3 separate regions of the Homo sapiens genome follow, and all the other regions are linked to region 3. Evidence: fine-mapped expression QTL. A gene starts in region 3. Each other region holds a variant in brackets. All regions are shown on one strand. Distances are between the middles of the regions.

What was found. PIP is the estimated chance that this variant, and not a neighbour inherited with it, causes the effect.
Region 1: its variant is fine-mapped to the expression of SPEG in whole blood (TOPMed, PIP above 0.99).
Region 2: its variant is fine-mapped to the expression of SPEG in whole blood (TOPMed, PIP above 0.99).

The regions. Positions count from the first base shown.
Region 1 is chr2:219,465,636-219,468,389 of GRCh38, reverse strand. It overlaps SPEG (striated muscle enriched protein kinase), which reads right to left. Exons shown (of 41, transcript NM_005876.5): 10 at 956-1,216. Among named protein-coding and RNA genes, the nearest start is that of SPEGNB, 29 kb to the left of the region's middle. RefSeq lists enhancers at 1,128-1,670, 1,918-2,583, 2,584-2,754. The variant C/T (reference allele first, on the strand shown) is at 1,201.
Region 2 is chr2:219,395,746-219,398,499 of GRCh38, reverse strand. The region is part of intron 2 of DNPEP-AS1 (DNPEP antisense RNA 1); the gene reads right to left. It also overlaps a transcript of DNPEP not described here. Among named protein-coding and RNA genes, the nearest start is that of DNPEP-AS1, 8.6 kb to the right of the region's middle. The variant G/A (reference allele first, on the strand shown) is at 1,198.
Region 3 is chr2:219,433,542-219,436,295 of GRCh38, reverse strand. SPEG (striated muscle enriched protein kinase) reads right to left here and starts at 1,453. Exons shown (of 41, transcript NM_005876.5): 1 at 931-1,453. The coding sequence starts at 1,318.

The DNA.
Region 1 (2,754 bases), 32 kb before region 3:
AGGGTGGGTGCAGACTGCCATGGTGGGCTGGGGACTCCATAGGAGCCCAGGGCCTGAGCCCAGGGCCTGGCCCCAGCTCCCCCCTCCTCCCCTCACCCTGCCCACCCTGGATGAAGCACAGCCCAGCTCTGATAGGGTCCTAGAAGCCAAGCCCACCCCTCCTCCATCTACTTCTCAGAATTCTCCTCTGTGCTGGGGTCATGCCCATGCTCCTAGCCACCTTCCCCAGACCCAGAGCAGATGCCCCTTGGCCCCACCTACCAACCCTCAAAGAAGCTTCTGGAGGAGATAAGGGTCCCTTATGTTGACCCGATGCACCCTCCTGCTTCTAAAGCCCCTCCAGCTTCCGCTTAGGTCTTCATCACCCACAACGTAGCAAGGCAGGTGCCATAATCTCTGCCCTTCCATGTGGGCAGGCCCAGGTCAGAGATAGCATCAGTGGTAACAATGGCTGGCATTTATTAGGCAGGTGTGCCATTTGAAACCCATTTCTGGAATGCTCAGTGCCCTACCCTCTCCTGGAAAGGCCCTTTGACAGGCCCTGTGCTTTGTTCTTCACATAAACTATCTCATTAATCCTGCCAATCCCTCTACAGAGGAGGAATGATCACCATCCCTGTTCTACAGATGAACAGGCTAAAGCTCAGAGAGATGAAGTGACTTGTTCAAAGTTATATGGCTGGTGACTTGCAGGGCAGGCGTGGGAACCCACGTTCACCTCAGCAGATGCACTCCCTCCTAGGAACAGTTAACCCTGTTGCGGCCTTTCCTTTGTGCTATGCACTATTCTAAGTGCTTATTTTATTGAGGCCAAGGCAATGTACTAGCTCCCACCCTCCCCCGCTTCCCCTCGGGGTTGGAGCTCTGTTTCCCAGGCATCTTACTGTACACCCCCAGTCCCCTCCCTCCAGCTCTTGGGCACCCACGGCAGCCCAATGCCTGAGTGGGGAGTTACCTTTGGCCGTGCTGAGCTTGCAGGTGTAGACGCCACTGTCGTCCTCATGTACAGATGTAAGTAGCAGCTTGCATTTGCGGCCATCGAAATGCATCTTGCATTTGAGCAGTGCAGGCTGCAGCAGGCGGCCACGGCACAGCCAATCCACCTCCACGTCAGTGGGCCCCGCCACCAGGCACTCAAACAGCGCCATCTCCCCGGCCCCCACGTCCACGTCCTGCAGGGGGGCCAGCACGGCCAGGGAC[C/T]GGCTTTCAGGGTGTGCTGAGGGGAAAGCAGCCACGGGGGCCACGCACAGAGCAGAGACACACAGGGTGAGGGAGACACACATACGCACGCACAGAGAGACAGACAGACACAGAGAGAGAGATGCATTTTGTTCTCTGGAGATGGGGAAAGCCCACCCACCTGGCCAGGACAGCAAGGCATGCCCAGACCTGGCTTTGAGATGGCAATCCAAGCTGGGCCAGGGAGGGTGATTCATGGAGGCAAGAGGGAACTGAGGGAGGGGAAACTGAGAGGGCCACGTGGTGGCAGAGACATCGGCGGGGGAAAAAAAAACACAACACACCAGATAGGTACAAACTGGACTTTATTTGAGTTAAGAAATAGGTGTTTCCAAATTTCTCCACGCTCACTACAGTGGCCCCCTGCCCCTGCTCCTGCACCAAACTTGGTTAACTCCCTCATTCCCAGACAGAGCACCCCAGCCCTGACAGAGAAGGAGGGGGCCCCAAATGGGCCCTAAACCTGCCAGGGCCAGGGCTCAGCCAGGCTGTTCATCAGCACAGAGCCTGGGGCCTCTGGCTTTTGGTCTTTTGTGAAATAGAAAGTGTTGTGCCATTCGAAACCCATTTCTAGAATGGTCAGTGTCCTAACCCTTCCTGGTAAGGCCTTTGTCAACAGCCCCTGCTCCTTGGGCCCCTCCATGCCATGCCGTAATCTCTCCCACTCTGTCTCACCCCACCTCAGCTCCGAGGCATCCTTCCCTGACTGTCACAGACACACAGACAGACAAACAGATAGACAGGCCTGTAGCAGCAGTAGCACATGCACTCGCCCGGTGCTCCCCTTCAGGGAGAGACTCGGGGGGTTGATACCCCTCGCAGCCGCCCCTTCCCAGCACTCAGTCCATCTGTGGGCCTCCTGGCCTGCACAGCCATGTGTCCACTTGGGGAGGGAGGGTCCACAGGGGCCCATGGGCTATCCCCCTGGGGGCTGCATGGGGTGGGGAGGGGAGGCTGGGACGGGTCCGGGCCGGCAGGCCTGGGTCTGTGGGCAGGAGGCAGTGAAACACAGCGAGGTCCGAGAGGTGCCTGAGACAGGGGCGCGGCTCGGAGGGTAGCGGGGGGAGCACAGGTGGCCCCCTGAGCTCACTCGCCTGTGTACAGACAAAAACCTCAGTCAGCAAGCGGCAGGTTAGTGCAGCATACGCGCACGCACGCGCACACACACACATGCACACACACGCATGCACACGCACACATGCACGCACACGTGCACGCACACGCGCGCACACACACACGCATGCACACACCCATACGCACACATGCACACGCACGCACACACGCACACACATGCACACACATGCATGCACATACACGCACGCATGCGCACGCACACGCACACATGCACGCACAGGCACGCAGACCTGGCTAGGGCCCTTCTGCATAGAGGGCTGCCTCTCACACCGTCAGGGCAGCACTGCCACTCTTGGCTCCCCCAAGGACAGCTCTGGGCTGCGAGGGCCGGCAGCTAGCCAGAGACTGGTTCCTCGGGGTTCCTGGGCAGGCAGAGACCCC
Region 2 (2,754 bases), 38 kb after region 3:
TTTTGTATTTTTAGTAGAGACAGGGTTTCACCATGTTGGCCAGACTGGCCTCGAACCCCTGACCTCAGGTGATCCACCCGCCTTGGCCTCCCAGAGTGCTGGGATTACAGGCGTGAGCCAACGCGCCCGGCCCCAAGTTACTATTATTTGCCATTTATTCACTAATTTAGTAAACATTCATTGAGAACCTACTACATGTCAGGCCAGGCACTAAAGATATCAAGATGATTAGCGCAGCGACCTGCCCTTAAGTTGCTCACGGTTCAAAATGAGAGATAATACTAGCTCACAAGTACTGCCCACTTAACTATTTGAAGAACTCAGTGATGAGCACCCTACGTGCATTATCCCATTTACTCCTCATAACATTATGAGGTTATGACTATCTTCCACCGGTTTACAGATGAGGAAGCTAAGGCTCTAAGTCTGTGGTGTGATGGTAGATGTTTAACAGCTAGCTCTCTGGGCCAGGTGTGATGGCTCACAACTGTAATCCTAACACTTTGGGAGGCCAAGATGGGAGGACTGCTTGAGCCCAGGTGTTTGCCGCCAGTGCGGGCAACATACTGAAACTCCATCTAAAATTAAAAATTAAAAAAAAAAGAAAAGCATCCAGGCACAGTGGCTCATGCCTGTAATCCCAGCACTTTGGGAGGCCGAGGCGGGTGAATCACTTGAGGTCAGGAGTTTAAGAACAGCCTGGCCAACATGGCAAAACCTTGTCTCTACTAAAAATACAAAAATTAGCCAGGCATGGTGGCACATGCCTGTAACCCTTGCTAATCTCCAATCTCATGACTTTAAATAGCATCTGTACCCCGATAATTGTCAAATTTACATACCCCCAGCCCAGATATCTCTTCTGAACTATATATAATCTCACATATCCAATTGTTTTTGCACAGTGTCCGTGTGGGCCTAATAGGAATCTCCAGTGTAATGTCTTAATCTGAACTCCTTGTTCCCCAAACCTATTCCACCCACATTCTTGATCATATGGAGGCTACTTGGAAGGCTGAAGCACGAGAATCACTTGAATCCAGGAGGCTGAAGTTGCAGTGAGCCAAGATCACGCCACTGTACTCCAGCCTGGGCAACAGAGCAAAACTCTGTCTCAAAAAATAAAACAAAACAAAACAAAAAACCAATTAGCTCTCTGGAAGAAAAAAAAAATGCCCTGATTTGTAGTGTTTGCCA[G/A]TCTCAGTGGTGTAAATACTTGCAGGCCTGTCTCAAGCTTCCTGTCTGATGTCTCTGAATGTGGAACAGGAAAGAGACGGGGGTGGGAGGGGAGGGGAGGGGGGCTGGCTCTGGCACAACACGGCAAATACGACCCACAGCTAATAAATGCAGGAGCCAGGATGTGAGCCCGGTGTGTGGATCCTGAGCCCACGCTCATAACCACTTTGTTATACTGTCACTAACTATACAAGAGCATTGACATTCAAGGGGGATACATCTTAAGACCTTTGTGAAGTGCCAGTTTTACAGTGTTCCATAAAACTTGCAAGGTTAGTAACCAGCACTTTCCTATACCTCTTTGTTTTCATCACTAACAGGAGCAGTTGGTTTTCCTTTGAGGGCCATTCTGAAAACCTTTTTATTTGGAAATAATTTTACCTTCCCAAGAGGTTGCAGAAATTGTACATGGAGGTCTGTGTGCCCTCCACTCAGTTTCCCCAGATGGTTACATCTTAGATAAGCACAGCACAGTATTACACTCAGGAAAGTGACACAGGTAAAATGTGTGTGCGTAGGGTTTGATGCTATTTTTTTCTAGGTTTGCCAGATTTAGCAAATGAAAATACAGGAAACTCAGTTAAATTTTGTTTTTAGTATAAGCATATCCCATGCAATATTTGGGACATACTTATACTGAAAAGATTATTCCTTATCTTTTTTTTTCTTTTTTTTTGAGATGGAGTCTTGCTCTGTTGCCCAGGCTAGAGTGTAGTGGTACGATCTCAGCTCACTTCAACCTCCACCTCCCAAGTTCATGCGATTCTCCTGCCTCAGCCTCCCTAGTAGCTGGGATTACAGGTGCCCGCTACCATGCCTGGCTAATTTTTGTATTTTTAGTAGAGATGGGGCTTCACCATGTTGGTAAGGCTGGTCTCGAACTCCTGACCTCAAGTGATCCGCCTGCCTTGGCCTCCCAAAGTGCTGGGATTAGAGGTGTAAGCCACCCACGCCCAGCCCTTGTTTATCTTAAATTCAAATTAAACTGGGCATTCTGTATTTCATTTGGCAACCCTAACTTTATCATGGTTAGAGTCATAACCACCATTATAATCAAGACATAGAACTATCCATCACCATCAAGATATTCCTGAGCTACTCCTTCATAGTCACACATCCCTCCCCAAATCCTCCCTAGCCCTGAGCAACCACTAATCTGTTCTCCATCTCTATAATTTTGTCATTTTTTTCACTCAGCATAAGGCACCTGAGATCCATCCACAGCGTTGCATTTAGCAACCACTCGTTCCTTTTTATCGCTGAGTATTATCCCATGAGGGCCCTTTTTCACAAAGAACAATTATTTTTCAAAATTTCTTTAATTCAGTAAGTGTTTATTGTATATCCACTACCTGCCAGGCACTGAGGATTGCAGCAGCAAAGTAAAATTGATTACATGTCACAGGCCAGCAGGTTACTTCCAGTTGACAGAGACTTCTTCCTGTGGATCCTAAGACAGGAGATGACACTGGCGCTAGGAGAGGAGGATTGGCCTCCCTAAGCACTTCCCTCTGGAGA
Region 3 (2,754 bases):
CTGGCCTGGCCTCCATGGTAGCCCCAGCTGGACCATGAGCACTGGGCCCAGCCTCTTGCCCTCCCCTTCTGCCTCAGACCCTCAGCCTTTTCTTCACACTGCACCTGGAAATCTATGGGCGGGGGACAAGCACTGGTCCATAGCATCCCCCTTCCATGCTCTGGAAACATCCACTCTGGAAGCTCAGGTAGACATGGTCCAGGAGCTTCCCATTCCAGCTCCACGTGCCCATACCTCACCTGTTTGCACCACCACACAGAATCCAGGGCCCTCCACAGCACCCATGCAGGCACACACCTGCATGTGGATTCTCAAGCACTCACCTCCATTCATGCCCATGGGGCCCTGGCTCGGGCTCCACCTCCTCCTACCCTGGACCCTGTTCACACGTGGCCAACCATAGGCCTCTTCCACACCCCACCTAGAGCTGACCACATCAACCCTGCCACGGCAATGGCCTGCAGGGAGCTCTGAGCCATCCCTTCAACAGTGCAGCCTGGACCAGAGGAGCTGGCCCCCTCCTTCGGACATGGACTCCCCTGTTAAGGAGCTGATCGGAGTGTCAATCTCAAGTTTAAATCATGGAACTGAAGGACACCCTTTCCCCCAGGAGGCTTTTCTCCACAGGAGGAGAAGAACTTCCACCCCAGAATTCCCTGAGAGGTGGGAGTGGGTCTCAGGCTTGGCTTATCAACCGCTTGCTGCCCCTTGACCTCTGACCTTCCTGTGGGGAGCCTCTCTACCTTGACACCCCATTCCCTGCACTTGGCTCTTCGTCTCACTTCTGGGGCCGGGCAGCCGAGAAGCCAGGGCACCTGGGAAGAAGGCGGCGGAACCAGTATCCAGTACCTTACCCGCGTGGCCTGGGCAGCCCTTTTCTACCTCTGAGCACCCCGCCCCTGCCGGGCGCGGCCCCCACCTGCCCTTTACCTCCGACCTCCAGCACTGTGAGCACCGCCTCGCAGGAGGCCCGGCCCCGCTCGTTCTGGGCCATGCAGCTGTACACGCCGGCGTCCTGCGCCCCGCAGCGCCGCAGCCACAGGCAGCTGGGCTCGGGGGCCGGCGCGGGCAGGAGCTGCCCATCCCGGAACCAGCGGAGGCTGGGCTGGGGCGTCCCGCTCACCACCACCCGCAGCCGCACGTCGCTGCCCGCGCACACCGCCGCGTTCTTCAGGGGCCGCAGGAAGACTGGCGCCCCGGCCACGGCCACAGGAGCCCCGCCGCCGGCCCCCACCTTGGCCCTTTTCGGGGGCACTCCGGGGCTGGGGGGTGCCCTCGTGCCCGCATCCTCGCCTCGCGTGCCCCGGGCTTTCTGCATGGCCACTGAGAGCTGGGCTGGGGGGACGCCGGAACTGGGCGGCCACGGGGGCACCCGCGGGACGGTGCCCTAGGAGACAAGTCTGGGGGGCCGGCGGCCTGCCTTCCTGCTGCCCGCCCGCCTTCGGCCTGTGCTACCCAGAAGGTCACCGGGGCGGCCGGCGATTGCGCCTGGGGGCTATTTTTAGGCCCCCCGGCTCGGGTTGCGAGGGAGCCGTGGAGGGAGGGGGCAGCAGGGGAGGGACTTGACTCCACTTGGCTCCTTCTCTCCCTCCAGGAGCCCCCATCGCCGGCCCGGCTTAAGGGAGTCCCTCGGTATTTGTTCCAGGCTTTCCCCTCCGTAGTGTGCCTGGCCCCCACACGACCCACTGCAGGGAGTCAGGTTACCCCTGGGCTCAATCCCATTTCCCTTCCTCCCTCATCTCAGACCCCTCATCCCTGCCCGGCTTCGCTGGGAGGGGAAGAAGAGGAACGGTCCTGGTGAGATGCCTGAGAGGTGGATGGGGAGGCAGGCCCAAGTGGAGGTGAGCAGACAGCTCCGAAGAGGGACCATGGCCTCCCCCAGCGCCTCCATTACAGCTGGCGAACAGTAAGACCAGGAGCCTGGGAGTCAGGTGGATTGGGGCCTCCACTGCGCCCTGCCCTTACTTGCTGGGTGACACCAAACCTCTCTCAACCTCCAAGTCCTCATCTGTAAGAATGGGTGGTGGAATAGGGTTGCAATAGGCAGAAAAGAGTGGGCAGGACATTCCAGGCAGAGGGAACGGCATGAACAAAATGAGCCTGATGAAAACAAAGGCGTCCTGGGAATTAGAGAGGTTTGGAGGGATTGAAGCGTAGTGGGTGGGGTGAGTGGAAGAAGGGAGGTGGGGCCTGGAGAAGGCTTTGTTTGCTAAGGCTTTGGTTTCTCTACCCTGAAAGCAGGGGGCGCCACTACACAGCTTTAAGCGGCAGAAAAAACACGGTGGGAGCTGTGTCTTAGGAGGATCCTCTTGGCGGCCACAAAGTGGAGGATGGATAGAAATGACGGCCAGTTCAAGTAAAGGCCAGATTCCCAGCCTCCTTGCCCCACACTGGTTCAGCAGCTGAGCTGGGAGGAATCTGCACATTTAACAAATGACTCAACTGATTCTGATGTGCCTAAGTGTTGCACGTTGAGAAACATCAAGAGTCCAGATGAGACCTTTGTGATAGAACAGTTCTGTATCTTGGCTGGGCGCGGTGGCTAACACCTGTAATTCCAGCACTTTGGGAGGCCGAGGTGGGTGGATCACTTGAACTCAGGAATTCAACACCAGCCTGGCCAACATGGTGAAACCTGTCTCTACTAAAAATACAAAAAATTAGCCAGGTGTAGTGGCTCATGCCTGTAGTCCCAGCTACTCAGGAGGCTGAGGCAGGAGAATCGCTTGAACCTGGGAGGTGGAGGTTGCAGTG